Linked DNA regions of Homo sapiens. The protein of the gene in region 5 interacts with the protein of the main gene of each other region in a pairwise test. Each region holds a gene or a part of one and is shown on either strand. Other genes may lie near its edges. The genes, in order: BEND7, COIL, ZNF2, ZNF84 and SPANXN2.

The links.
Region 1: the proteins of SPANXN2 (region 5) and BEND7 interact in binary tests that used the Homo sapiens proteins (3 or more experiments, as listed by UniProt).
Region 2: the proteins of SPANXN2 (region 5) and COIL interact in binary tests that used the Homo sapiens proteins (3 or more experiments, as listed by UniProt).
Region 3: the proteins of SPANXN2 (region 5) and ZNF2 interact in binary tests that used the Homo sapiens proteins (3 or more experiments, as listed by UniProt).
Region 4: the proteins of SPANXN2 (region 5) and ZNF84 interact in binary tests that used the Homo sapiens proteins (3 or more experiments, as listed by UniProt).

The regions. Positions count from the first base shown.
Region 1 is NC_000010.11:13,444,639-13,450,926, forward strand, and holds part of BEND7 (BEN domain-containing protein 7), read right to left. Parts: intron 2,682-6,288; coding exon of another isoform or gene 2,679-2,681; coding exon 2,628-2,678; exon of another isoform or gene 1,904-2,627; coding exon of another isoform or gene 1,893-1,903; exon of another isoform or gene 1,449-1,892; intron 923-1,448; coding exon of another isoform or gene 909-922; exon of another isoform or gene 1-908.
Region 2 is NC_000017.11:56,952,675-56,958,962, forward strand, and holds part of COIL (coilin), read right to left. Parts: intron 1-6,288. UniProt on the Homo sapiens protein: Component of nuclear coiled bodies, also known as Cajal bodies or CBs, which are involved in the modification and assembly of nucleoplasmic snRNPs.
Region 3 is NC_000002.12:95,167,189-95,173,476, reverse strand, and holds part of ZNF2 (zinc finger protein 2), read right to left. Parts: intron 1-6,288. UniProt on the Homo sapiens protein: May be involved in transcriptional regulation.
Region 4 is NC_000012.12:133,042,980-133,049,267, reverse strand, and holds part of ZNF84 (zinc finger protein 84), read right to left. Parts: intron 1,314-6,288; coding exon 1,187-1,313; intron 516-1,186; coding exon 420-515; intron 1-419. UniProt on the Homo sapiens protein: May be involved in transcriptional regulation.
Region 5 is NC_000023.11:143,713,325-143,719,261, forward strand, and holds part of SPANXN2 (sperm protein associated with the nucleus on the X chromosome N2), read right to left. Parts: intron 1-5,937.

The DNA.
Region 1 (6,288 bases), on a different chromosome or scaffold from region 5:
AGGTGGAGTCCTTAAAGGGCACATGTGAGGAGGGGTGTTAGGAGCAGCACTGCATTCAAAGAAGCCAACCAGAATGGGGATTTTACTTTGGAGGCAATCAAGAGACATGCTATCCAGGTGAATATCAAGATTACTTAATATTATTACTGCAAAATTTGAGCATCAATCTGAGACTTCTTTTCCTTCTTTTTTTTGAGACGGAGTCTCGCTCTGTCACCCAAGCTGGAGTGTAGTGGCGCGATCTCGGCTCACTGCAAGCTCCGCCTCCCAGGTTCACGCCATTCTCCTGCCTCAGCCTCCTGAGTAGCTGGGACTACAGGCGCCCGCCACCATGCCTGGCTAATTTTTTATATATTTTTTAGTAGAGACGGGGGTTTCACCGTGTTAGCCAGGATGGTCTCGATCTCCTGACCTTGTGATCCGCCCGCCTCGGCCTCCCAAAGTGCTGGGATTACAGGTGTGAGCCACCGCGCCCGGCCTCTTTTCCTCTTTTCTAAATGATAAACGTTTTTATTTATCATGCTGCTTAGTGATTTGTATCAAATATCTATCAATAGTTTAATGAAAAGATCTGCAAGTGTGTTATACTATTTTCTTCATTATGACCTCACAGCCTTGGGTAAAGTTTGAGAAAAGACTGGAAGAAACGAGTTTCAGCTGCAGTGAACCGGGCCGACTGACGACGAACATTTTAATTGTGAAGACTGAGACAGTGAAGAGGACTCCTAAAGGGATTAGCACATCCATCATCTCTTAGGATCTTTAAGAAACATGCAGAGAAAAGCTGGCTTTGGCTTAGGTATGAGAAAGCTATATGGTATCATGGCTGGGAGTCGAGGGACCTGGGTTCCGGCCAGGCCGTCAACCAGCTGTGAGGCCGTGGGAAAGCCACTTAATGTTTCTGGGCCTCAGGCTTTTTTTCCTGTAAAATAAAAGGACTGGATAAAAAGAAGGGATTGGACTAGAGGATCTCTCAAGTTCCTTCTCATTCTCAGATTCCTTGACATTTTTTTCAGTTCCATGAGGCTCTTCTAGCACCCTCTGACCTCAGTTTTCTCACTGGAAACGTATCTCCAACTTCAGATAGGAAAATACAAAGGCATTCCGTACTCACCACTTGGGGGTGAATATAAACTTCAAGGGGAGTGGCTTTCAAATAATAAAAGCTCACTGTGTCACATGACACAGGAGGACAGGCAGTGCAGATGGCCAGGGTGGGAGGGCACTTGGGAAGCACAGCTAGAAAGGCATGGTGCTCCCCTGAAGGGCCTTCTGAAGGCTAGGTCTATTACGATTAGGATTTCATGGATCGGCTGGGATTGGGCCCAGGTGATAAGAATGAGGCTGATATGCGTGCCCTGATATTCAGAGAATGACAAATTGGGAAGGAACAACAGAGATCACGTATTTCAATTCTCTTAATTCACAAATGTGAAAACACAGCCAAAGAAGAACAGAAATCTCTTTTATATAATGACTCTGTATGGGAAGAACTTGATGTAGGCAGGTCTTTTTGCACTATGTAGCTCATTTGATTTATCTGTCCATTGATCTGTTGCTTAGCTACTCAGTGGCAGAGAAAGCAATGTGTCTCTTACACGGCTGAATTTTCCTGTTGCTCTGAAGCTCTGAAGTTCACTAGCACAGGCCCATCCTATGCCTGCGAATGTGGCTTTCCTTGCCATTTTGGGATATGTGCTGTCAATGAATACATGGCCTAGTCAAGTTCCTACACAACCTAGAGACTCCACTAATATTTGCTGAATTTAATCAACACAGACCACCCCAAAACTAGAGGAAAAAACATTCGGTTGAACCTTTTCAGTAAGAGGGTTTTTGGGGGTACCTGGGTTTTGTGGGCAGAGAATCTTCAGATATCCTTTGGAGGGAAGTCAGTAGAGTCCTGTGACCAATGGAGGGGATACATTGTTTTCCACAAGGCTCATTGATCAGACACCTGCCCCTCTGGCTCTCAGATATGAACCCATACACAGGTAGGAAGCCAGGGTCAGAAGCATTACTTGAGAGTCAAATAACATGAAGTTGGAATTATGTCTATGGCTTAACACAACAGCGTGCAGCAAATGCTTCCATGGAAGGGTATCTTCAGCTGATCTGGTCCTGGTATTAGGAATGTGCCACTCACGCCGGATGGCTGGCCTTGTTCAAATCGCTCAGTTAAAACATAGTATTCACTGGGTGTCCACTGATTGACTGCTCAAGGCTCCAAGGCCGTTTGGAGGAGGTGGGAGAGGACAGCCTAGCCATGAATTTGATCACACAAAATTAGTGGTCCCCGTTTTAAGGTGAAATCTCATTTCACGTTAAAAATATTTTGTAATGTCCAAAGGTTTGGGGAGGCAAAATGTTATGATACTTAGTTCTTAGGATTTGCTCTTCTGAGATTTTTATGAAAATAAGAGTGTGAGAAAAACGTTTTTCTATTCAGTATGAAAAACATCTCTGAGTACGGGGCCTTGAGAAGCTCCAATGACGGGGCCTGGTCCACTGCAGAAGCAGTTTGCTCAAGTGTCTGCATGTCTAATGTTAAAATCGTTTTCAATGCAAATAGTTTTGTGGGCTGTATTTTCCAGGAGGTGATGAAAATGTAAATGCGTTTTATTTACCTGTTGGTGGTAGAGCAATGCCGTCCAGTCTTTCATCACTGTCCGCGATCTCTGCTGGTTACAAACATAAGACACAAATCTCATTAGTTCCAGGGAGCACATTCATTTTACAGAAAATAGTGATGTAATTTTAAAAACTCCAGTATACATAACTGTTTTCACCATTCTTTTCTGTTTTCAGCTACCGTTGGTTCATATTACAGATGTTAATATCATTATTTGAATATTTTTTGATGATGGTGATATAAAATCAACTTTCCCGTATTAAAACTTTTTTTTTTTTTTTTTTTTTTTTTGAGACGGAGTCTCGCTCTGTCGCCCAGGCTGGAGTGCAGTGGCGCGATCTCGGCTCACTACAAGCTCCGCCTCCCGGGTTCACGCCATTCTCCTGCCTCAGCCTCCCGAGTAGCTGGGACTACAGGCGCCCGCCACCACGCCTGGCTAATTTTTTGTATTTTTAGTAGAGGCGGGGTTTCACTGTGTTAGCCAGGATGGTCTCGCTCTCCTGACCTCATGATATTAAAACTTTTTAAAATCTTATGAACCTCATTCTATTGATCACTGATGATTTCTGTTTATTTTCACTTATTTACATAGGCTTGAATATCGAACCAGCATGTGGGGTGAATTGTTTAAATAGGGTCATCGCGGGGATGTGTCAATGAATTCCTGCTGTAGAATTTGCACTTGGCATCGCCGGAACCACTCCTGGGGGGCAGCTTAGGAAATCTTGAGAATGAACCTTTCTTTGGAGATGGCTGATTCAGATCCTAGAACTGCCAATCTAACTCTGGCATTAACGTGGTCATGAAGAAGGAATAGGCGTTGCTTCAAAAGATTCTCCATTTCTAAGTTTTAAAATGCAAACCTTCGCTCGTGTCTGATAAATGTATCCATCTCCTTGGGAGTTTTCCAAAGGTAGATCCTTCAGTCACAAAAAACCTTCTGTTACATGCGAAAAAAAAGGTGCACGTGTGTCTCTTGACAAGGGATGGGCTTGTTAGTTTCCCGTAACATGTGGGGATGGGAAAACATCACATTATGGCCCCTGGGATAGTTTCGGTGGTGGCCTCCATGGCTCAGGGCCTGTGGTCCCCACAGGCAGGCCCCTGCTGACTGCATAATGTGCGTGGGCAGCCCTTGTGAGGCTGTTGAATGAGGTCAGCCTTGGCACCATGTTGTAACACTGAGTCAGAAGCAGCCTAAACTAGTGCTACGTACTTGTTTTTATTGTTGCTTTAAACATAATCAGGGCTTAGCTACGGCTAGAAATATTGTATGGCTCCCCTGTCTCCTTCATCCTCCAACATCTTGTCCTCAGATGGACGCTCACTGGCATTAATGAAAGACCCCTTGTCTGCTGACCTGCTAGATCCACCACAAAGAGAAATCACTGAGAAGGGATGAAATATGCAAGACCAACCTAGGTTGGATTAGATTAGCAACTGCTAAAAATGATGTTGTATTTGGGAGGCCGAGGCGGGTGGATCACGAGGTCAGGAGATCGAGACCATCCTGGCTAACACAGTAAAACCCCGTCTCTACTAAAAATACAGAAAATTAGCCAAGAGAGGTGGCAGGCGCCTGTAGTCCCAGCTACTCGGGAGGCTGAGGCAGGAGAATGGTGTGAACCCGGGAGGCGGAGCTTGGTGAGCCGAGATCGCGCCACTGCACTCCAGCCTGGGCGACAGAGCGAGACTCCATCTCAAAAAAAAAAAAAAAAAAAGATGTTGTAGATGAATATTTAACAACATAAAAATATTCAAACCATGGGATAAATGGTGTGATTAAGATTCTGGAAACAGGTTTATAGAAAAAATATGGCACATACTGAAATGTTAACTGTGTTTCCCTCTGGATGAAAGGCTTTAGGTATTTTAAATTTTGTTCTATGGCTTTTAGAAATTATTTTATATATGAAAAATAATGAACATATGTTATGTTTATATTTAGAAGACATTATTTTCTTCTAATTGGTTTGAGTGAGTTGGGGACAGATGGTCTTCATGGTAGTTCTCTCACTGCCTAGGATTTTAAAAATCCTTCAATAATAATAACAATGATAATCACCATGTATTAAATGCTCACGGGGCACTTGACATGCAGTGTGTCGCTGAACCCTTAGGACACTCTACAAGGTGGGTCTGTTGCTCTGCCCATCTTAACACATAAGGAAAGTGAGACAGAGGTTGGGAAACTCACTCCAGGTAACACAGCTAGTAAGTAACAATGCCAAGGACATGAGTCGCGTTAATGTCTGGGCTATTCGTCTCTTTGCTATTAATAGTCCAAACATACCATATGCATCGATATGAGCTAATTTCTTAAATCTTCGAGTTCTAGTTCATTTTATATTTTGGCAACTTTCTTTACATGTATAATTGCTTTTCATTTAGTTATAACAAGATCAGTTTTGGGTATAAACTGACCTTCCTTTTGTAATTCAGCTATCCTCCCTTTGAAAAAACAGGCCTATGCAATTATGTGCTTTAGTAAGAACAGAACATATATAACCAAAAAAATATATAGATGATTATATATAAATCAGAACACGCTAGCTGCATGAATAGGGGCTGAGAGTCAAGGAGGAAGGCACTGTTGTGTTACTCAAATTTAATTATAACATCTATCTGCAACAACAAGCTCACAGTCTTTCTTCCCCGGTGACAATCAAGTTGGTAAATTTGGAAAAGATTGAGCAAGTCCAATAAACATTTAACAGCAGTGACATCTTTACTCTGAGATCTAACACGATATATTGTGATTTCAGCTCTGAGAAAATCATCTGATGGCAATGATAAAAATGCACACCAGGAAAGGAATCACTGGAGCTATAGAATAAAAATTATTCCATGTGACGACAGCCCCAAATGAATTTCTATTTGGATTTGCATAACGGCCTTTCAAATCTGTGTGGGGCACTTCTTTTTTTCTAGAGGCAGTGCAGGCTTCCTTAAGTGGTAGCCAATTAGCTTGTGGAGTCAGAATCTCTACCTCATTCCAGGAATGGAGCCAGATATGACAAATAAGGTGGAAATTGTGCAATCTCTATGAGACACTGTTTGTATTATCATTTAGACTGAAAATCAGACAAAAAGCATGAGAGCAGGTAATATTATTGATCCAGACCTCTCGGTTCCTATCGGCATCATGGAAGGAAATACAAGTGGTTCTAGTTTCAATTTGCTGGGGCCCCACTTCTGTGCCCTAGAGGAGAATGATGTGGAACAGGATTTGACAAAATGGGGAGACAAACTGTATTTGGCAGGTCATTGCTGATGTGCTGTCATTTGGGTCTGCTTGTCAGGGTTGGTTTTGTCTTACAGCCACCTTCTACTTCTCAGTTGTTAATAGAACCTGCTAGGAACGCAGAAGAGAAGGGCCAAGGGAGCCGATCACAAGTATCTGGGCAGATCATCTAAACCAGTGGTCAAAAGTTACAATGTCCAACATCAAATATTCTGATGTCTAAGGGGCAGGAGCGGGCAAGTGAGTGGGGACTCCTCGAGGAGGGGAGGGGTGGGGAGCAGGCTGTGGCTTGGGTCTCATCCTGTAGAAGTGGGCAAACCTGGGGGGAAATGGGCATTTGTGATGGGAATTATTAATAGAAATGAGACATGGTTAGGGGATGTGTTCCCTGGCCAGTCTGCTTGGGGGAAAG
Region 2 (6,288 bases), on a different chromosome or scaffold from region 5:
AATATACCATTGGCTCTCCTTGGTCTATAGCTTACTAAGTGAACTTAGGACTTCTCAATCTCCACAATCCTATGAGCCAATTCCTTACAATAAATCCCATGTCTGTGAGTGAGTATTTGTGTGTGTGTGTGTGTGTGTGTGTCTTACTGGTTATGTTTCTCTGAATAACCCTACTTCATCCAAAATTTCACTATAGGAAAGCAATTTTGTTCCTCCATCAACAGGCAACAGCTAATCCTAGTATGTGCAGTCTGATGATGATGGAAGTCTTGAGACTGTCCTCAATGTTAAGCAAATTGTGAGTACTCAAAAATGCCTGTTGGCCAGGCACAGTGGCTCATGCCTATAATCCCAAAACTCTGGGAGGCTAAGGTGGTAGGGTGGCTTGAGCCCAGGAGTTTAAGACCAGCCTGGGCAACATAGGGAGACCCTGTCTCTACAAAATACAAACATCAGGCTGGGCACGGTGGCTCACGCCTGTAATCCCAGCACTTTGGGAGGTCAAGGTGGGTGGATCACAAGGTCAGGAGATCGAGACCATCCTGGCTAACACAGTGAAACCCCGTCTCTACTAAAAATACAAAAAATTAGCCAGGCGTGGTGGCGGGCGCCTGTAGTCCCAGCTACTCGGGAGGCTGAGGCAGGAGAATGGCGTGAACCTGGGAGGTGGAGCTTGCAGTGAGCCGAGGTCACACCACTGTACTCCAGCCTGGGCAACAGAGCAAGACTCCGTCTCAAAAAAAAAAAAAAAAAAAAATACAAACATTAGGTAAGTATGGTTGGTGCATGCCTGTGGCCCAGCTACCTGAGGTAGGAGGATCACTAGAGCCCAGGAGGTCCAGGCTGCAGTGAGCTGTAATTGCGCCACTGCTGAAAACACACATTATACTTACAAGGCATTTACATTCAGCTATATATTTCATCAAGTTTTTTCAGTGGCCAGGGAAAGATGTAGACAATCATATTTGAAAATAAAGAACAACTGGTGAATGATAGGAGCATATGTGACAAGCATTCTTTAAATTTTTTAAGGCATAGTAATCCTGTGGATTTACCTCAATGCGGTAGTTGAAAAAAATCCTCAATTATTTGTCAGAAAACTAACTATACAGACAAACAAATCAAGATAAAATAAGAGTTACTGATATCAGGAGTAGGAGAAAGAGACAAATAAAATGCTGAGTGACCAGGGATTTTAAATTATAAAAACACATTCCCCTCTGTTCCCAGCTTGGCATCTAATAGCAAGGAAATAATTCTTAATCTGGCAAAAGCCAGTTTGGCATCCTGTGAATCTAAGAACTACCATGGAAGCGCTACAATATCAGATTTTTTTCTTGACATTTCTGATCAATTTGTTTTCACTTGTAGCAATGATCCAAGCTTCAATTCTGAGATGACCAAATAGGACCAAACTTTCTGTCAAATGTTGAAAATGGTTGCAAGTCTCTGTTCAGTCACTGTGGTTTATTAAGGCCCTGGAAAACAGCACATGTAACATCCAGTTGATGAGAACCCCTTCCTTTCCTGGAAGCTGGCAACACCCTCACGCCTTCCAAAACAGCTCTTAGCATCGTCTCATCCATTCTTAAGACCATGCATTGGCCGGGCGCGGTGGCTCATGCCTGTAATAATCTCAGCACTTTGGGAGGCTGAGGTGGGCAGATCACAAGGTCAAGAGATCGAGACCAGCCTGGCCAACATGGTGAAACCCAGTCTCTACTAAAAATACAAAAATTAGCTGGGCATGGTGGCATGCGCCTGTAGTCCCAGCTACTCGGGAAGCTGAGGCAGAAGAATCGCTTGAACCCAGGAGGCAGAGGGTGCAGTAAGCCAAGATCACGCCACCGCACTCCAGCCTGGCGACAGATAGAGACTCTGTCTCCAAAAAATAAAAAAAAAAAGACCATGCATCTACAGCTATTTGGCTTGAAGGTATGACCTGTGATTCCTGCAGCCCCACTACCTACTGTTCCCCAAGAGAATAATTTCAGTTTTTAAAATATTAAGATTATAAACTGGTGTGGTGGCACATGCCTGTAATCCCAGCTACTCAGGAGGCAGAGGGAAGATCACTTGAACCCAGGAGTTCAAAACTAGCCTGGGCAACACAGTGAGCCCTCATCTGGGAAGAAAAAAAAAAAGAAAATATTAAGATTGAGAGGCAAAATACCATCCAGAGAAAAAGAAATGGTTCTCCTGGGTCTGCTTAGTTACCATTCCTGTCAGGTGCACCTTCCCTGGCAATATTCTCTATTTCTTTACCTGGATCACAGACAAAGAATAGAGCTATCCTTTTACAAACAAAAGTGCATGCATTTGTCCTTTCACAAGTAGAAGTGAATTACCTAGGTCACTAGTGACGAAAGAGTTGATTCCAAAAAACAGATCCCCACTTTTCTTTTTTCGAGATGGAATTTTGCTCTGTCGCCCAGGCTGGACTGCAGTGGCATGATCTGGGCTCTCTGCAACCTCCTCCCCTTGGGTTCAAGCGATTCTCCTGCCTCAGCCTCCCAAGTAGCTGGGATTCCAGGTGCCTGCCACCACGCCTGGCTAACTTTTTGTATTTTTAGTAGAGATGGGGTTTTGCCACGTTGGTCAGGCTGGTCTCGAACTGACCTCAGCTGATTCGCCCGCCTCGGCCTCCCAAAAGTGTTAGCATTACAGGCGTGAGCCACCATGCCCAGCTATCCCCACTTTTCATTCTAACTCTTTGCAAGGCAAACTGAGTGGTATTATCAAAATCTAAGTCCACCCTTAAAATCTACAATTTACTGTCTAGGATTCTGTTATGCAGAAACACTGACATGCCCATCTGTCCAACCTGATGCTCCCTACCCATTGCCTGCCAAGGCCAACGTGAATGCCTGGGTTCAAATGCTATTTCTGCCACTGTAATTTTTTTTAAAATCATTACCTCAGCCTTTCTCATCTATAAAAATGGGGATAATGACAATAATTACAGTACTCAGTGACTTATTATGCAGAGAGAGCATGCCTGACTCAGAACAAGTGATATCCAAATGTTAGCTCTAATTTTTATTAGTACAATGAATGTTGTTAGTCCTATCATGGGTAAGTTGGTGAATTTTTAAAAGTTGTACAAGTCTGTACAACTTTTCTGGAAGCTAATTTGACAGTACTTATCAATTTTTATATGTACCTTCTCTTAGACCAATGAGTATTTCTTCTAAGAATAAATCCAACTGAATAATTTTCCAAGTACAAAAAAAATACAAGAATATTCACTAAAGCACTATGTAGCAAACAGAAAAGAATGACATACATCACACACTTTATATACTGAGATAGCCCATGATAGGTAAAAAAGCAAGGTGCAGAACAGTATGTTATGATATTTGTAGTTTAAAAGTATAAGTACATATGGTTGCACATGTATAGAAATCTGGCTCTAAGATATACCCCATACCCCAAACTTAACCAAGGATACTTCTGGAGAGTGAGGTGTGGGAAAAAGTATATGATAAAAGTAGTAGGAAACTTTTTATCTTGGACTATCCAAGGAGCCACTAACTACAGCAATATGAAATGAGAACTCGTCTCTAATATTTTGTTTTGTTTGAGATGCGGTCTTGCTCTGCTGCCCAGTCTGGAGTGGAGTGACACGATCATGGCTCACTGCAGCCTCAACTTCTGAGGCTCAAGTGATCCTCTCACCTAAGCCTCCCAACTAGCTGGGACTACAGGCATCCATCACTGAGCCTAGCTAATTTTTTTTGTTTGTTTTTTGGGGTTTTTTTGGTAGAATAAGGGTCTCCCTGTGTTGCCCAGGCTGCTCACAAACTCCTGGACTCAAGTGATCCTCCCACCTCGGCCTCCCAAAGTGTTGGTATCACAGGCATAAGCCAACATGCCTGGCCCATCTCTAACATTTAATCAATGTGTTTTTTTGTTCGTTTGTTTGTTTGTTTTTTGAGGTAGGGTCTCACTCTGTCGCCCAGGCTGCAGCGCAGTGGCACCATCTCAACTCACCGAAGCCTTTACTTCCCAGGCTTAAATGATCCTCCCACCTCAGCCCCTCAAGCAGCTGGGACTACAGGCATGTGCCACCATGCCCAGCTAATTTTGTTGTATTTTTCTGTAGACATGGGGTTTCACCATGTTGTCGAGGCTGGTCTCGAACTCCTGAGCTCAGGCAATCTGCCTGCCTCAGCCTCCCAAAGTGCTGGATTATAGGCATGAGACATGGCGCCCAGCCTTCATCAAGTATTAATTGCCAGAGTTAAAAGGGTCAGGGAAGACAGAATGCACTGTTTCCTTACAGAATTGATTCTTCAAAAGGGAGTTTCTCAGGCCGGGGGCAGTGGCTCAGGCTTGTAGTCCCAACACTTTGGGAGGCCAAGGCGGGAGGACTACTTGAGCCCAGGAGTTTGAGACCAGCCTGGGCAACTTAGTGAGACCTCTCTACTAAAAATAAAAAACTGCACCTGTAGTCCCAGCTACTCAAAAGGCTGAGGCAGGAGGAGCCCTTGAGCTCAGGAGTTCGAGGCTGTATAAGCCAAGGTTGCGCCACTGCACTCCAGCCTGGGCAATGGAGTGAGACCCTGTCTCAAAAAATAAGGGAGTCTCTCTGAATCTACTGTAATTCTGAGGGCTGCACGATTAAAAAAAATTTAAAAATTAATTAAAAAAAATTAAAAACCGCCAGACACAGTTGCTCACTCCTGTAATCCCAGCACTTTGGGAAGCTGAGGAGGGCAAATCACTTGAGGTCACAAGTTCGAGACCAGCCTGGCCAACATGGTGAAACCCCATCTCTACTAAAAATACAAAAAAATTAGCCTGGCATGGTGGCGGGTGCCTGTAATCCTAGCTACTCGGGAGGCTGAGGCAGGAGAATCGCTTGAACCTGGGAGGCAGATGTTGCAGTGAGCCAAGATCGTGCCACTGCACTCCAGCCTGGGCAACAGAGTGAGACTCTGTCTCAAGAAAAATAAATAAATTAATTAATTAATTAAAATAAAATAAAAAAACCAAATCTGCCAACACCCTGATCTTGGACTTGTAGTCTCCAGAAGAGTAAGAAATAAATTTCCATTTTTTAAGCCATACAGTCTGTGGTATTTTGTTATAGCAGCCCCAGCAAACTAACACAGGGGGCTCCAAGCCAATAGAAGCACCTCCTCCTCCTCCCAGGACAGTTAGAGACCACCTTTAGGAACTCGCTGTCAGAAACCTGGGGGCAGATGAAGCCAGATTCCTGGGGCTTAAGAGAATGGGCTATGAGGAAACAGCAGTGGAACACAAGTGTGTGGTGCATCCAAAGCCTCAAAGGCTGTTTCTCAGGATTCCCACAACCTAGTTCCACTTTTCCTCATTAGCCTTCTCAGTACTGCCAATGATCCCAACAGAATGCTTTGGCTGGTCAGACTCATCTTTTTACCAAGTCCAGCCAGCTTTTGTCTCTATAACTGTGCTTTGATCATCCAACATTTCCCACCCATTCTTCAAGGTACTGCTCAATTCCCTAACCATTTTGTTCCATGCTGATCTCCCTTTTCTCAACCAGCTTCTGCACTTACCATATAACTTGGTCTAACTATTCAGTCTAATTGTCTGTATCACAGAAGGTAATATACAAAAGCATGAGACTCATTATTTGGGTCCCAGTCCAACAATATTGGGTACTTTGAGAATAGAGACTATGTGTTCTTCCGTAGCTCTGAAGAAAAGTGAATTTGCCAGGGAAAAACAATGATTGTGGACATAAAACAACAAAAACAAAGACGAACTTTCCAGATTCATCTTTTTCTACGGTCTGCCCATTTGCCACTGAAGCCACTAGAGAGGTATTTTTTGCCACATGCAGCTGTGCATTTGAAGCATTTAGGAAAGATTTGCCTGTCATCGTGTTGTAATTATTACTTATAACAGTTTTCATGGTTTGTTTTTGTCATTGTTAACTTCATTATGAAGAATGTAATGCCCACATGATTCATTAAAGTATAATTATAGTTAGCACAAGTTATTAACTCATTAGGCAAGAGACAGTTCAGAAAGTAAACTTAATAGGATGGGACACAATCCTTAGAATTGTAACATTTAAATAATCCTTGAATTGCAGAGAGAATAGAGACCTATTTCACAGTCAATAAAAAGGGGGAAAAAAAACTCTTTGAAATTTGGATTATTTCAAATTGTCATTTGAAACAGTTGAACATTATTCAATAAATCATAATATCCTGATTTAAAGATGCAGTTACTGTTCCAAATTAAATTCCCTGATGTTCTGAAGAAATCTTACGGAATCTGACATGCTTGAGGGTA
Region 3 (6,288 bases), on a different chromosome or scaffold from region 5:
AAAAGATAGCCACATCAATTACAGACCAATAGACTAGAACAGAAAATCCCAAAACATATCCAAACATTAGGGAAGCCTGATGTATGACTGAGGTGGCATTACAAGTCACTGGGGAGAAGATCACTAGTGATAAACTGCAAACAACTTCAATGTCCATTAATCAGATAAAGGATTTGTGAATATATATACATTATCTCATATATGAATATTATATATGAATATGTGTATTATACATTATATATGAATATTATACATTATCTCATGTTAACAGAGATAAATTACAAAAACATAATTACTGGGCAAAAAATAAGTTATAGAATGACTTACTGTATAATATTTACATAAAATTTAAAAACAGGTAAATAATACCTACAAAAATCTATTAACACATGGGACAATAAGCAGCAAATGTGTACATATCTGAGAAGAAAGGGAAATAAGACTGGGGAAGGATACCCAGGATACTTCAGCTTTATCTGTAATGCTTTGTTTCTTACAAAAAAAAAAAAAATCAACAACTGAAAAAAAACCACAAAGAACGGCCAGGTGCAGTGGCTCACACCTGTAATCCCAGCACTTTGGGAGACCGAGGCGTGTGGATCACTTGAGGTTAGGAGTTCAAGACCAGCTTGGCCAACATGGTGAAATCCCGTCTCTACTAAAAATACAAAAATTAGCCAGGCATGATGGCACGTGGCTGTAGTGCCAGCTACCCTGGAGGCTGAGGCAGGAGAATTGCTTGAACCCAGAAGGCAGAGGTTGCAGTGAGCTGAGCTCACGCCACTGCACTCCAGCCTGGGTGACAGAGTGAGACTCCATCTAAAAAAAAAAAAAAAAACCACAAAGAAATTCAAAACACTTGAAGAATGCACACTTTTAAAATTACATATTTGTACATGCACATTATGTATAGAAAAAGGAAAAACACATAATAAAATGTAAATGAAATTTGAGTGGTGAGTTATAAGTTATTTTTATTTTCTTACCATTCTTCATATATTTTTTTCAACAAGAGTAAGTCCTTATTTTGGTGTACAGAAAAAAATAACAGGAAGGAAAGAAGGGTGGTGTGCAGAAAAGTCACAGCAGACCTGAGACTGCTATTCCTAGAAAGTTCTGCTTGCATGCTGGCCCTTCGCTGGCAGCTGGAAACTTCGATTTTGAGAGGGTTCCCCAGTTCCCTAAGAGATAACGGTGGTCTACTATGCCTAAACTATTTGTGCAAACAATGTCGTTTATGGTGAACATGTGCTCTCCTATTGGAGGGTCTGGAATTTTGGTATGTGTTAGGCAGACGGTGCCTATGTGACTTAGCCCTCAATAAAAAACATGGGCTCTGAGTCTCCAATGAGCTTCCTTGAGCAGAGACATCACACTTGTTGCTGCATTTTCGTTGCTGGGGGAAGGAGTGTGCTCCATGTGACACCCACATGGGAGAAAGAGAATAGAAGCAAGCCTATATACGGATTCCTCTACCCGGCTTGTCTTTTCCCCTTATGATCTGGCTGCCTATCCTTGCAGGGTCATCATCATACTCTTAGCCAGAAGTACAACTATGGGTCGAGTCTTGAGTCCTTCTAGTGAATCCCTGAACCTGGGGTGATCCTGGGGACCCCAACACAGGTGGCCACGCCACACTGAGTGGCTGTGGTGTGATGGGATTACAGGAAGGAAAGAATGGAGGTGAGTAGACCATTGAGGAGAGTGTTATAATTAAATAAGAAAGATGACAAACTGAATGAAAGCTGTGAAAGCAGAAATGTTGGAAACTGCTGTCAAGCTATTAAGAACAGACAGGCTGGGTGCGGTGGCTCACGCCTGTAATCTCAGCACTTTGGGAGGCCGAGGCGGGTGGATCACGAGGTCAGGAGTTCAAGACCAGCCTGGCCAAGATGGTGAAACCCTGTTTCTACTAAAAATACAAAAATTAGCCAGGCACCGTGGCAGGCACCTGTAATCCCAGCTACTTGGGAGGCTGAGGCAGGAGAATCGCTCAAACCCGGGAGGCAAAGGTTGCAGTGAGCCGAGATCACACCACTGCACTCTAGCCTGGGTGACAGAGCAAGACTCTGAGTCGGGGAAAAAAAAAAAAAAGAAGAAGAAGAAAAACAGACAATACACTGGCTGGAAGAAGAGGCTGAAGGTGATGAGGGCAAAGATGACGCCCGGGTTACCAATGCGGCATGGATAACGATGCCGTTCATGGAGATAAGGTACAGAGAAGGACTGAAGGGAAAACCAATGAGTACAGTTTTGGACATTCAGAATTTGAGCCGACCCCACATCTTTGAATAAGAAAACTCAGATGACTCTGGCTCCCACTGGCCAGATAAATAATAAAAATCACTAGCGCTAAATAAAATAATTTGAACTTTGAAGGACTATGAGTTTCATATTCAAAATAGAAAAGTTAATATAAAATATGCCATAAAAGTTGTAATACAAGGAAGGCAATGTTTAAAACTTTACTTACATAAAAAGGTACTTTTTTCTATTAATTGTATGACTATAGATGTACCCTCAGGATAGATACTTGTATCTACTCATATAAGTATGTAAAAAGAAATTTGGAATGGGAATAAACCAGGTAATTCTAGATACAGAACTACATACCCCAAACAGGGAGGACTAATCAGTACTGGGGCCACACGTAAGTATCAAGTAGAAAGAGAAATGGGCTCTACTAACAATGAACCAACCTCTGCTTCCAAAGAAGCATAGTAACTGTGCAGACTTCATCCTTTCTCCCTTAGGATATGTCTCCCTACAGCTAGACTTATGAATCAAACACAAAAATAAGGAACAACTAAGTTTTCAAAAATGTCAAAAGACCAGATCAATAGATATTTACTGGTCTGTTTGGTAGCATTTAACTCTATTCTATAACAGGTCTATCATATTCTTGGATATTCGGGGATTTTCTGTTCTAGTCTATTGGTCTGTTACCTATGCTATCTTTTCATGAAAATAAATCATTATAGCTTAGAGTTAAAAGTTGCCAGACAGCTCAGGGTTATTTAACAATGGGTTCACACTGGCCAAGCAAAATTTTAAAAGAATATTACCTTGAGGGTGAATACCAGTTTGCAAAAACTACGTGAAAAGCAAAAACTTATTGGAAAAACAAGTTTAGCTAAGTATAAGCAAAAACTAATAAACAAAAAACACCCCCAACCTAACGGGGAGAGATTAGGGTTTGAATCTTGCTGGGAGGAGGCAGATATAAACACAAACAGAAACAAAGACATGTCAATTGATAACCAGAGCATGCAACGTGTATTGTCTAAAAGTATTCTTTTCCTTTTTGGTCTGTTAAGATTCGTCCATCACAAGAGGGTATCCAAATATTACCCTTAGGCCCTAGAAATAAGTCAAAATTAGCATTTAGAGATACAGGAAAGTGTAGTCATTGGGAGTACAGGCTCTGGAGACAGACTGCCTGAAATCAAAATCCACCTCTGCCTCTTCCTACCGGTGCTACCTCAGGAAAGTTTCTTAACCTGTCTCAGTCTGCCTGTTTGCAAAACTGGAATAACGGAAGTAATATCTCTTGCAGTTATCTTGATGCTTAAATAGGGTAACACATGTAACACATTTAGAATAATGTGCTAAGTAAAGTTAGTATAAGCTAATGTAATGTAATAAGTAATGTTATAATTCTAGGAAGGTAGACACACTGAAAATATTAATTACACTGAGTTGTTGCATTTTTTTGTTTGTTTTTTTTGAGACAGGGTCTCGCTCTGTCTCCCGGGCTGGAGTGCAATGACATTATCTCGGCTCACTGCAACCTCTGCCTCCCCGGTTCAAGCGATTCTCCTGCCTCAGCCTCCTGAGTAGCTGGGATTATAGGTGCCTGCCACCATGCCTGGCTAATTTTTGTATTTTTGTAGAGGGTTTCACCATCTTGGCCGGGCGGGTCTTGAACTCCTGACCTCAGGTGATCTCCCCACCTTGGCATCCCAAAGTGCTGAGATTATAGGCATGAGCCACTGCGCCTGGCCGAGTTGCTGCTATTTTAGAGTAGGTTTAAATGTAAGTGCAGTAATAACTTTGGAGTCAAAGTATTTGTATATGTTTGTCTAAAGCACTGGAGCTTTTTGAACAAATCAAACCATATCCAAAACTGCAGTCGAAACTGCTCAGTGTTAAATGTTTAAAGACAATTTTCAAAGTTTTGTTTATTAGATTACAACTTTAATTAAACTGAGCACTGAACGAATTACAAATGGTGGTGAACATATAAGCTCCCCAGTTATTAAACAACCAGTGGATACTCCCAAAGTGCTCCTCATCCGTAGACTTCTCTCCCCATTAGGTTTAGACTCCACCAGCAGTCACTTCAGTAAGCTCACTGACACTGAAGACTTCTCAAATCCACCAAACTCACAGGGAGTTACTGCTAGCCAAGAACCACCTCCACTTCTGTGTTCTCTTTTCCTATCCCTGCATCTCAGAGTATCACTGGAGAAAATGTCCCCTAAATTCAGTCTATATCTTCAAACGAGCCCTTGACATCGTCCAGAAAGCTTTTACTGCTCCCATCTTAGCTACATGGCTATTCCAAACCTCCATGGGTACCATTCAATTTCCGCATAACTTTTGTCTTCTACCACACCAAAGATTCCCAGGAATGAGTTTCAAGGGAAGCAGGGTTATATGGTAGAAAGCATTCCACAAGCATGGAATTATTAACCATGAAGCCTTGGATGAGTTACTTAAGCCAACAGTTGTTTACCACCTAACTCACAGCATAGTTATAAATGGTGAGACCATTAATATAAAGCATTTATCATACAGTTCATTCAACAAATAAAGTTCTCTTCCTTTCTACTGCCCAATGCAATCCATCCACTCATCCCACTATTTGATGAATATGTACCAAGTAGCTGTTATGTGCTAGGGCAGCGAGATGTGTGAGGTCAACAAGACAGAAATGTCTGTCTCCAGGACTTTACCTTTGTGTCCTATACCCTGGGTTCCACTGTTTTTCACATTGCTTCCTCTCAGAATTTGTCCCTGCACTTCCCAGTATTTTTTTTTTTTTTTTTTGAGACGGAGTCTGGCTCTGTCGCCCAGGCTGGAGTGCAATGGCACGATCTTGGCTCACTGCAACCTCTGCCTCCCAGGTTCAAGCGATTCTCCTGCCTCAGCCTCCTGAGTAGCTGGGACTACAGGCGCGGGCCACCATGCCCAGCTAATTTTTGTATTTTTAGTAGAGACAGAGTTTCACCATTTTGGCCAGGATGGTTTCAATCTCTTGACCTCATGATCTGCCTGCCTCAGCCTCCCACAGTGCTGGGATTACAGGCATGAGCCACAGCGCCCAGACCCCAGTCTTTTTTTTTTTTTCTTCCAGCATTTTCCACCCCAGTAGCACTTTCTTTCAACATCTTCAAAGACATACAAGCCTCCTCTACCTGAAACTATTTTCACTGAATCCCATGACCTCCTTCTAGCAAAGCAGTTCTCATTTAGGTTGTCCTTTCATGATCAAACTTTTTGGAGAATAATAACCTACTGACTCCACACTGTTACCACTTACTCTTCTCCAGTCCCTGTTTTTCAGCTTTTGCCCCTCACACACCTGAAATGGCATGCTTGAAAACTACTTTTTTTTTTTTTTTTTGAGACGGAATTTCACTCTTGTCGCCCAGGCTGAAGAGCAATGGCATCATCTCGGCTCACTGCAACCTCCACCTCTCGGGCTCAAGTGATTCTCCCACCTCAGCCTCCCAAGTAGCTGGGATTACAGGCACCCGCCATCATGCCCTGCTAATTTTTGTATTTTTGTAGAGACGGGGTTTCACCATGTTGGCCAGGCTGGTCTTGAACTCCTGACGTCAAGTGATCTGCCCACCTCGGCTTCCCAAAGTGCTGGGATTACAGGCATGAGCTACCGCACCTGGCCTACCAATGCATTTCTGATCCTATTATCTCTATTTCTTTCTTTTTTTTTTTTTTTTTTTTTGAGACTGAGTCTCGCTCTGTCACCCAGGCTGGAGTGCAGTGGCGCAATCTTGGCTCACTGCAAGCTCCGCCTGCCGGGTTCATGCCATTCTCCTGCCTCAGCCTCCCGAGTAGCCGGGACTACAGGCGCCCGCCACCACGCCCGGCTAATTTTTTGTATTTTTTTAGTAGAGACGGGGTTTCACCGTGTTAGCCAGGATGGTCTCGATCTCCTGACCTCGTGATCCGCCCGCCTCAGACTCCCAAAGTGCTGGGACTTACAGGCGTGAGCCACTGTGCCCGGCCATATTATCTATTTCTCTGTAGCTTTTCACTGTT
Region 4 (6,288 bases), on a different chromosome or scaffold from region 5:
TTTGACCACAGGGGAAGGAGGGACTGAATGGGATCAAACATGTGAGAGGACAGAATACCAAACAAGAAGTCAAGGTCCCAGATGTTACAGAGAATAACGTCATGGCCAAGATAAGCAGGACACATTTCATTTTAAGCTACAAAGAAGCTACGTCTAAATGTGACTTACTTGAGTAGCTAATGTCAATTGTTCTGAGGCACCACCAAAGGTTTAGAGATTTTGAAAAGAGATCCTTAAAGCACATTTCAAAGATGCCAACCCATCACTGACCAGCCAACCCATCAATGACCAGCCCACCCGTCACTGACCAGCCAACCCATCACTGACCAGCCCACCCATCACTGACTAGCCCACCCGTCACTGACCAGATGACATGGGGCTTCTGCTCTCTCCCATCTGCCTGGTTCTCATACACTCACCTGGAGAATCTGAACTTGGAATTTCTCCATCTCCTACCCACGGCTCTTCTCCTTGCTCCAATTTGAAGATGACATCTGGTTTCATAACTTCATACCCTGTTAAGGGAAAAATCACAAAGGCCTTGGGCCCAACTGCTTGGGGTTTAGGGCCTCTAAAGTTGAGCAAGGTTTCACATCAAAGTTGGCCTGGTGAAGCTGTACCCCAACAGAGTAAGTAATTCTCAAAGTTACAGTAACGGTCTCCCTTGGTGGCTAATAGGGTCTAGTACAAAGCCACTGAACACTTCAGAGGCTCTGGAGCCAGTAAGCCTGGGTTTACATCCAGGCTCTTTAATTTACTAGCTGTTAGTTCTTGGGAAAGTTACTTAACCTCTCTTGGCCTCGATCTTCTCATCAGGAAAAATGGATAATGACTGTACTTGCCACATAGGATTGCTCTGATGACTAAATGAGTTGATATACGTAAAGCACTTGGTATAAGATGTGGCATATAGTAAGTTATATGCATTAGGTGCTATCACTACTGCTCAAACTATTACTACTTAAGTTTCAGAGGCTGCATGACAAACTTACAACTTCATTATTGAAAGGTGAGACCCAAATACTTTCTTGGTGTCATAGTCCAAGCAACTGTGATCTAAGTTTCAGGTCTAAAATCATTAAAAATTTCAGAAGCCTAGCTATAGGCTTCTGAAACTTCCCAGCAACTAAAAATAAAAGGCAATGCATTGGGCATAGTCCAAGGTCCTCAAGAAAGCTTTTATTACCCAGTGACACTAGGCTGCTATAGTTCTCCAACATCACATCCTTGTATAAATTCTTCTGAGAGGGATCCAGTAGCTGCCACTCCTTTTGGGTGAAGTCCACAGATAAATCGTCAAATGAGAATGACTCCTGTAAGAGCACAATCCTGGTAAATCTGAAGCAGTTAACACCGTATGATGTGAGAAAAAAATATTGGAGCTTTAGCACTTCATTCTCATAACAAGTTATACAAAATGCCTACTATGTCTCTACCTTTGCATATTTTGTGTGATAAAATGTCATTGTGCATTCTTCCATCCTTCCATTTATACAACTGTTAACCTAAAGATTAAAGAGAGCCTCTCCAGAAGAAAATGATGTTTGTTTGGGAACAGAGTACTGCCATGAGAAGACAGGTGCCATAGTAAACTACATGTGTATCCAGGGAGGTAAAGAAAGACGAAGGTGTCTACAGCCAGTACGGTCATACCACCCTCAACGCGCCCAGTCTCGTCCGTTCTCGGAAGCTAAGCAGGGTCGGGCCTGGTTAGTACTTAGATGGGAAGAAAGACAAAAGTTTTTAAAGGAAAAAAATGAGGTGCATCACATAATTGTTTTGAAACAGTTATCCTTGGCTACAAAGATCAATAACAAGGGTGACACCAGTCCAAAGCTGGACAGGCAGCTGCTGGGCAGATGTCCCAATAAAAGTATTTTTTGTGTAAGGCTTCAATGGCCTTTGTACGAGGCTGTGGCTTTTGCAGTCTTTTGTGATAATTTTTATCAGGCATGCAAGTGTGAGAACACTTTTTTCACAGGCTTCCCAAGCTCTACCTGTAGGGGTTAAAAAAATTAACACTAGTGACTCCATTTTGATTCTGACAACTTTCACAGAAGACACGCAAACTGGAATAGGTGACTTTAAACCCCCTGAACCACCAATAAAATCTTTACTGAACCTCAAATTTGGCACTGGAAGAGGTAGTAGCAAAAGAAAGAAAATAGGATAGGCAAGGTGGCTCACACCTATAATCCCAGCACTTTGGAGGCCAATGCGGGAGGATCACTTGTGCCCAAAAGTTTGAGACCAAACTAAGTAATACAGTGAGACCTGTATTATATATATATATAAATAATATAATACATAATATAATATATAATATAAATATTATATTAAAAATAATATAATATATAATATAAATATTATATTAAAAATAATATATAAATATATATAATATAAATATCATATATATATAATATAAAATATATATAAATATTAGCTGGGTATGGTGACATATGCCAGTAGTCCCAGTTACTTGGGAGGCTGAGATGGGAAGACTGTTTGACCCTGGGAGGTCGAGGCGTCAGTGAGCTGTGATTGCACCACTGCACTGCAGCTTGAGTGACAGAGTGAGACCCCATCTCAAAAACAAACCAATACACTAAAATACCAAGAAGGAAAATAATAAAATAATACTCTCAAAAGTCGCATTGTCTTACAGAGGGCTGCAAATATGCACTTACAAATAAAATAAACTTATAGTAACTAAGAAATAAAGGAGAGCACAGTGTGGATAAAAAGCAGGCAGCACTTCACTCTATTTGAGTGTAGAGTTAGGCTCTACGGAAAAGGTAAAATTGAAATGGGTTTTAGAAAATTAGTTGTTTTCCACAAAAAAAAGAGGATGCAAAGACATTCTGGGAGGCAGCAGCTCTGATTTAAAAAAAAAAAAAAAAAAAAAAAAAAAAAAAAAAAACTGTGAGGACTGAAGAGATACAAAAACATCAGTCTGACAGGATAATAGGGAATGGGATAGTGATGAGATTAAAGGCCACAGTGGGGCTGGGGCAGAATGTGGTTAGCTTAGCTAGGACACTTTCTTGTTGCCAAGTTAGCCATCAAAGACCTTACAAGAAAGGGAATGATAGAACCAAACAGATTTTAGAAAGGTGACTAGATTTTGGATCAAGATGGATTTCTGTCTCAAAGTCTCCTAAGATAAAAAGAAAACACAAGCACACATCTTTTAAAAATCTAGAATGCCACCAGAAAATCAAAAAATAAATTTGACCCTCACAGCACACAATATACTTTAAGAGAAGTCAGAGAATTTGAAGACAGATCAACAGAAACTGTTTTGAACAGACAGAAAATGACTTAAAAATGAACAGAGCTCATGACACTATCAAATAATACCAAAGACTCTAATGTGAGTGTCATAGGAGTCCCAGAAAGAGAAAAGAAAGAGCATGGTGAAAATAAAGTCTCAAGAAATGATAGCTGAATATTCTGTAAAACTGGCAAAATATATAAACCAAAAAATTCAAGAAGTTCAGTGAATGCCAGGCAATAAACATAAGGAAATCCATACCCAGACACATCATAAATGGCCAGAAAGAAAAAAAATCACATCACTTAAAGGGAACAGCAATTCAGATAACTGCAAATTTCTTTCTTTCTTTTTTGAGACAGAGTTTTGCTCTGTCACCCAGGCTGCAGTGCAGTGGCACAATTATAGCTCGCTGTAACCTCTGCCTCCTGGGCTCAGGTGATCCTCCCACTTCAGCTTTCTGAGAAATGGGGACTACAGGTGCATGCCACCACACCCACTTAATTTCTATTTGTTTGTTTTTGAGACACAGTCTTGTTCTGTCACCCAGGCTGAAGTGCAGTGGCCCAATCTCAGCTCACTGCAACCTCCGCCTCTCAGGTTCAAGCAATTCTCCTGCCTCAACCTCCTGAGTACCTGGGATTACAGGCACCTGCCACTACGCCCAGCTAATTTTTGTATTTTTAGTAGAGATGGGGTTTCACCATGTTGGCCAGGCTGCTCTCGAACTCCTGACGTCAGGTGATCCACCCACCTCGGCCTCCCAAAGTGCTGGGATTACAGGTGTGAGCCACCGTGCCCAGCTGAGAGTAAGCAAATTAATGATTGTCTTAGGCTGGGGTGGGAAGAGGAATTGACCAAAAATGTCACAAAGATTGTTTTGGGGTGAGGAAAATCTTCTAAAACTAGATTGTGATGATGGTTATACAGCATAAGTTTACTTAAAAATCAATGAATTATACATTAAAATGGTGGATCTTATTGAGGTCATACTTCAATAAAGCTGTTAAAAAGATATTACAAACTTATGCCAACATACTTGACAACTTAAGACGAGATAGCTATATTCTTTTTTTTTTTGAGATGGAGTCTTGCTCTGTTGCCCAGGCTGGAGTGCAGTGGCGCAATCTCGGCTCACTGCAACCTCCACCTCCCAGGTTCAAGCGATTCTCCTGCCTCAGCCTCCCAAGTAGCTAGGATAACAGGCGCCTGCCACCACGCCCGGCTAATTTTTTGTATTATTATAGAGATGGGCTTTCACCATGTTGGCCAGGATGGTCTCAATCTCTTAACCTCGTGATCTACCCTACTCGGCCTCCCAAAGTGCTGGGATTACAGGTGTGAGCCACCACACCTGGCCAAATAGCTATATTCTTTGAAAAACAATGAACCCAAAGTAACAAGAAGAAACAAAATCTGAATTAATCCTGTAACTGCTAAAGAAACTGATCCCACAATTTTAAAACTTTCCCTCAAAAAAAATGCAAGATCTATGTAGTTTTAGTGGTGATTCTTCCAAACATTTACTTAAAATGATCTGGCCAGGTGTGCTGGCTCATGCCTATAATTTCAACTATTTGATAGGGTGAGGCAGGAGAATTGTTTGAGGCCAGGAGTTCCAGACCAGCGTGGGCAATATAGTGAGAACCTGTCACTACCAAAAAAAAAAAAAAAAATTTAAACTAGCTGTACTTAGTAGTAGGTGCCTGTAGTCCCATCTACTTGGGAGGCTGAGGTGGGAGGCATGTTTGATTCCAGGAGTTCAAGGCTGCAGTGAGCTATGATTGTGCCACTGCACTCTAGCCTGGGTGACAGAGTGAGACCATGTCTCTTAAAACAAAAAGAAAAAAAAAGTTATTGCTGATGTTTTTGTTAACATGAAAAATCTAATCAAATCTAAAGAAAAATCATTAGAACTAATAAGTAAGCTTAAGAAATTCCTGGCCAGGCGTGGTGGCTCACACCTGTAATTGGGAGGCCGAGGCGGGTGGATCACAAGGTCAGGAGTTCAAGACAAGCCTAACCAATATGGTGAAACCCCATCTCTACTGGAAAAAAAAAAAAAAATACAAGAATTAGCTGGGTGTGGTGGCATACCTGTAATCCCAGGTACTTAGGAGGCTGAGGCAGGAGAACTGCTCGAACCCGGGAGGCAGAGGTTGCAGTGAGCCAACACTGTGCCACTGCACTCCAGCCTGGGCAACAGAGTGAGACTCTGCCTCAAAAAAAATAAAAAAATTAAAAAAATAAGTTCCCGTATACAAAGTCAATATGCCAAAATATTGCGTATTTCCATGTTTTGGCAAGAAAATTCTTTCAAATAACAAAATTTCAGATACCATTTACTGTAGAAATGGCTAACGGCAGGTCTGGGACAAAAAGATTAAACCTGTGCCTTGATAGATTCTGTCATGCTGGAAAGCAGTGTTCTAGCTGATCAAGAAGAAATGATCAAAGTAACCTGTCACCATTTTGCAACTCCCAATGAAATAATCCATCTATGCAATGATCATTTAAAAAATGTTGGCCAGGCGTAGTGGCTCACACCTGTAAGTGGCTCACACACTTTGGGGGGCTAAGGCAGGCGGATTGCCTGAGCTCAGGAGTTCGCGACCAGCCTGGGCAACACAGTGAAACCCCGTCTCTGCTAAAATACAAAAAATTAGCCAGGCGTGGGAGCGTGCGCCTGTAGTCCCAGCTACTCAGGAGAATCGCTTGAACCCTAGAGGCAGAGGTTGCAGTGAGCTGAGATTGTGCCATTGCACTCCAGCCTGGGTGACAGAGTGAGACTCCATCTCAAAAAAAAATAAAAAATAAAGAAGCCACCTCAACTGGGGGAAGGACTGCAGTTGCAATTGCAGTGAATGCCACAAAATGTGAAGTGAAAGAAGACAGAAGTGAGCATACACTACAACAGACAAAATAAATAAAATGAGCACACACTACAGCAGACAAAATCAAATATAGTGTTTAAGAACGCACAGATAGGAGCAGAACTATAAAGTCAGGAAATG
Region 5 (5,937 bases):
AAACAAGCCACCTTATTTTTTGTTCCTTCCTGTTTCCGGGCAGCTGCAACAAGGATCACCCCCATTTCTGGACATCACATCCAACACTGGGCTTCAATTAGTGGGTGAGTCTCCCTCTTCCTCCTTTCCAGATTCCTCTCTATTTCTGCCCGTTCTCCAAAAAATTCCAGTGCTGGGTGAGAGGTCTCCCCAGTCACCAGGTGACTGCAGCCTCCCTTCTTAGGGTACACCTTCAAAACGTTTGCCACTCTGGCTGCTCTGGCCTCTGGGGAGCATGAATAGTACGGGGCTGCCCCAACTCTCCAGGTCCCTTCTCCCAGGAGGAATCAAGTACTCACTTCCCTATGGGGTATTCACTTCTCTCTGGAGTACTCGCTCACCCCTGGGGTACTCACTCCCTTCCAGGGTACTCACTTTCCTCAGGGGTAGTCACTCCCATCCAGAGTATTCACTCCCCTCTTCCAAAAAACAAAACATTCAACTTCCAAATTCAACATAATCTAAAAAACTTTCTTCAATGCAATGGTAAATAATCTGAAGTGCTTTGCTTATCTCCTTTCATGCCTCACTCTCTCTCTCTCTCTCTCTCTCTCTCTCTCTCTCTGCCAATCTTGTTCACCTTTTCAAATCTTCCTCCTCAAGGAGAAACCCCCCAAAATGCCTCTTCCTCCGGACAAGTCTTCTTCCTCTGAATTTCAACCTGGCCAACACACCCGTTCTTCAGCCTCCTGCCCTCTCCCATTCCCTCCACCTTCTCCTTCGGATCCGGCTCCTCCACCCCCTTACTGTCGCCCTCCATCCCCCTTCCTTCTCCACCTCAAACCAGGTCTCACACCCAACCCCCTTTCGCTAGGAACCAGGCACATGCCCAAAGGCCTTCCAAAGTCCTTCCCTTGCAGGAGGTTGCGAGGGCTAAAGGCATAATCTGAATTCAAGTTCCCTTCTCTCTAGCTGAGTTTTCCCATATTGAAAGGAGACTTGACTCCTTTTCAATGGATCCAACCTCCTTCCACAAGGAATTCTTGTACTTCCCTAAATCTTATGACCTTACCTGGCATGACATATATGTCATCCTCTCCTCTACCCTCACCCTGGAGGACAGGGAACACATCTTTATGGGTGCCCAGGTCCATGAGAACACCCTCCACCAACAAGATGCTGCTCATAATCCAATAGGGACCCTAGCTGTCCCCAGAACTGGCCCCAGTTGGAATTATCAGGCAACTTCAGTAGACAGACAGAAATCAGGCCATATGATATCATGCCTTCTAGCTGGCATAAATAAAGCTGTCCCTGCTCGTTTCCTCTCCTGCCTTTCAAAAGTCACAACTAAATATGCCACCTTAAGCCCTAATACCAATAAGGGCAAAAACTACCTCCATTTATACTTTATCTCCCAGTCAGACCCAGACATTTGAAAAAAACTTAAAAAACTGGAGGGTGGCCCTCAAACCTTCCAAAGAGACTTAATCAAAGTGGCCTTCAAGATCTATAAGATTAGAGAGGAAGAACTAAAAAATCCAAACCTAAAGAAGGACCAGGCTAAATACCAAATGCTGGTAGCTGCCACTCAACAGGGTTCCCAAGGCCTACAGAATTCCTCAACTTGGCAACAGTCAACTCCAGGAGCCTGTTACAAGTTCGTCTAACAGGGACACTGGGCAAAAGCCTAGCCTAATCCCAGGACACTCTGGAAATCTTGCCCCATCTGTGGTATCAAGCAACACTGGAAGTCAGACTGTGCTCACTGAAACTCTTCATCCTGCTTCACCACCTGTACCTGAAGACAGGTGGGGCCTGGAGTCCACCGCCCCTACTGCCATCACCACCTCGGAACCCAGGGTAATTCTGTCAGTCTCTAGTAAGCCCATGTCTTTCCTATTGGATACTCAATAGGACAACTAGTTACTCAGTTTGACCAGAATATTCTAGACCCTTTTTCTGTTCTTCGATCTCTATTGTGAGAATCAATAAAATCCCCTCTAGGCACAGACTGGTCCTTTATTATACAACCTATTCAGCAGCCCCCTTCACCCACTCTTTCCTGGTTATCCCTCAGTCCCCTACCCCTATCTTGGGATGGGACATATTAAGTAAATTCCAGAACTCCATGCAATGTGGCTCCTACAATTCTACCCCTTTTATTTTACTCTGACACCCAAACGCTTCCCTCTCCCCCCACTCATCCTCATTATCCACCCTGTTACCTTCTGTTAATTCTAAAGCTTGGAATGTTTCTAAACCCACAATAGCCACACATCACATCCCAGTTAAAATAACCCTTCAAAACCCCTCCATTTTCCTTCATCAGTCTCAATATCCCCTTAATCCAGCCTTGCTTAGGGGGTCTCAAACCTATTATCTGTAAACTTTTACAAGCTCATATTCTCAAGCCTGTTAACTCTCCCCACAACACCCCTATTCTGGCTTTCCAAAAGACAGACGGGACTTACCCCTTTGTCTAGGATCTCCAAGTCGTTAACCAGGCCGTGGTACCAATCCATCTAGTGGTCCTCAACCAATATACTCTACTCTACCGTATTGCCCCATCTACCACACACTCCTTTGTATTGAACTAAAAGACAACTATTTCACTATTCCCTTAAATCTGGCTTACCAAAGTCTTTTTGCTTTGACTTGGTCAAATCCTAATACTCACATGTCCTGTACTCTTACAGGACTTACACATGGACTTACACCTAGACTGTACTCTTAGAGGGGTTCCGGGATAGGCCCCACCTGTTCAGACAGGCCCTCATCAAGGACCTAGCTGAACTTCCCCTTGCTCCTAGTACCCTCCTCCAGTATGTCAATGACCTCCTTCTCTGTAGCCCCTTTCTTAACCTGTCCATTCAACACACCACTCAGGTTTTAAACTTCCTTCATAATCAAGTATATTGGGCCTAACCCACAAAATCTCAGGTACCCAAATCAAAGTTACTTACCTTGGGTTTGTTCTAACCCCTAATTCTCGAGCCATCCCAACCCAATGAAAGGAGCCAATTTGGGACATGCCCCTTCCCCACATAAAAAAAAAGGACCTCCCCTCCTTCTTGGGCCTTGTGGGATACTTCTGGCTGTGAATTCCTAACTTTGACTTGCTGGCCAAGCCACTATACGTAGCCTCACATGGGCCCATCCTAAAACCCCTGAACCCAGCTTGCCCCATCAACTCCAACTTAAAAACTTAAAAATGCCCTTTTAATGGCCCTGGCACTGGGACTGCCAAACCTCACCAAGCCTGTTACTTTCTATGTACATTCTGACCAGCGCCTTGCCCTTGGACTACTCTGCCAAACATATGGCAACGCCCCAGAAGCCATTGCACGCCTCTCAAAACAACTGGACTCTGTCATCCGAGGCTGGTCACTCTGACTAAAAATCTTGGGTATGGCCACATTGCTGGCCTTAGATGCACGGAAACTCCCTCTCTACCAACACATTACTATTGCATCTTCCCATTATCTACAGGACCTCATAAACCACCAATCCCTTCTATCCCTCCCACCATCCTGCTTACAGCAGGTGCATGCCTTATTCATAGGTAACCCTCTAATCACCTTCCAGAGACATAAAATTCTCTACCCAGCCACCCTTCTCCCTGTAAACACTTCCGACTCTAAGCTCTCTCACTCCTGTCTGGACCTCTTAGACTCCCTCTCCTCCCCCTTCCAACACATTTCAGATGCCCCTTTGCAGGGAACACATACACGGTTAGTTAATGGAACCTCTTTTAGGCAGCCATGTCCAGCAGCTGGCTATTCCATCAGTGCTGAAGATAAACTCCTAGAATCGAATGCTCTCACACCCCATGCTACCTCTCAACAGGCAAAGCTAGTTGCCCTAACCAGGGCCCTCACCCTAGCAAAGGGAAAGAGGGTCAACATTTACACCCATTCCAAATATGCATACCATGTCCTACAGTCTCATGCCTTCATCTGGCAGGAACAGGGTTTCCTAACTACAAAAGGAACCCCCATAAGAAATGGCAAACTTACACATAAGCTGTTGGGGGTGGATAAACCACCACCAAAGGCCACCATTATCCATTGCAAGGGACACCGAAAGGCTACAGATGCCAAAACCGAGAAAAACCTTTCAACAAATTCGGCAGCCTGGCAGGCAGCCCTTAAAACCCCATCGTTATTGCTCATTTTTTTTCCCAGCATACACCCTGTATATACCCAGCAGGAAAAAAACCCACTTGCCCAGGCTGGTGCCATTCAGGAAAAAATAGTTCGATCTCACTGATAAAGTGTCTTGCCCAAGTTTAAAAAACCTTCTGTACTTTCATATGTGCACAACCATTTCCATGCCGGTTACTGCCCCTACTCCAGCTTTTAAAAACTTCTAGACATTCTTCCACCATGGTTGCCCATCTCAGAGATATTACTAAGGCATGTTCCCTTTGCACTCAAACTTCCCCTCAGGAAGCTATCAAACCATCTCCTTTCCCACACACCAGACCTGAGGACACTTACTAGGGCAGGACTAGCAAATCAACATCACTCACATGCTCCCCAGAAAGTGATTCCTATACATTCTAACAATAGTAGATACATTCTCTGGATGAATAAAAGCTTTTCCTACCACCACCAAAAAGGCACACACCATCGCTTCTATTCTCTCCACCCATATTATCCACCGGTTTAAACTCCCCTCTTGCATCCAGTCAGACAATGGGCCAATTTGTTTCAGTTTAACCAACAGCTGGTAAAGGCTCTAAACATTAAATGGGCTTTCCATATTCCTTACCACTCCGAATCTTCAGGAAAAATTTTATAAAAAACAACAACTAACCAAACTCTCCTTAAAGGTTAAAATGGCCTGGACTTCACTTCTCCCATTGTTCCTCATGCGATTATGAGTCATTTCCTAAAAGCGCTCAGCCTAAGCCCATTTAAATTCATGTACAAATGCTCCATTTATCCTCCAGAATCTCCCTGTATTTTCCCCCCATTCTATATGGAATACTTGGCCGGCGTTACACCTCACCCAACATCTAATAAGACAGTACGCAAATGCTTACTTGACCCAGCCTAAAAGTCCATCCTCAAAACACTCCTCCCTGTCCCTACAACCAGCGGGCTGGGTCTGAATCACAGACTCCTCCTCCCCCGCTCTCCAACCTAAGTGGAGGAATTCTCACCAGGTGATGCTAACTACTCCCACAGCGCCAAAGCTAACATCCTTTGCACACTGAATGCACATTTCAAACTAAAAAGAGCACCAGATCCACATCTAGAAATTTGTTCACCCCCAAATTATTCTCCTTCCCTGACAAGACCAACCTCACTGTACTTAACAAGAATTCCAGAAGTTGCCAATCCAGAACACCTTAGTCCATAACACTCTCTGTCTCCAGTTTCCAATCTTTTGTCTCCTACTTTATTTCAGATCTTTCCTGGTTTCCCTTCCCCATGACCCTGAATAGTCCAGGCCAATTTGTCACACTAATCAAGGAGATATGACTTCAGGGCACCTTCCAAAATTTCACTCCTACTCAAATCTCCTCTTTCTCCTTTTGTCCTCTCTATCTGTGGGATATTCTAAGTCCCCACCCCGAACGTCTAACAGATGAGCCCCCTTCATCAGCCTCACTGCCTCTTAAATCAGTCACACTCCCCTCTTCCTTCCAACTGTTAAATTTGTTTGTCCACACAAATCCAGTAGTTCACAGCCCTTCCTGTTAACCTGGCCACATGAACCCTGTCCAAAATAAACCTGCATTTCACCTAATTGACCAATTCATTCGCAAAACCTGCTTATAATCTTGCTCGGCTAATCACCTTTCCCCCCCCACCAATCCATCAAATCCACCCACACCGTCACACACAGGGCTGTCACCCTCCTTCACCTCATAGCCTCTTAACTAAACATGTTACCAGTCGGATTCCAGAAAATACCTCTTATCAACCCCTCCCCTTTCTGCCGGAG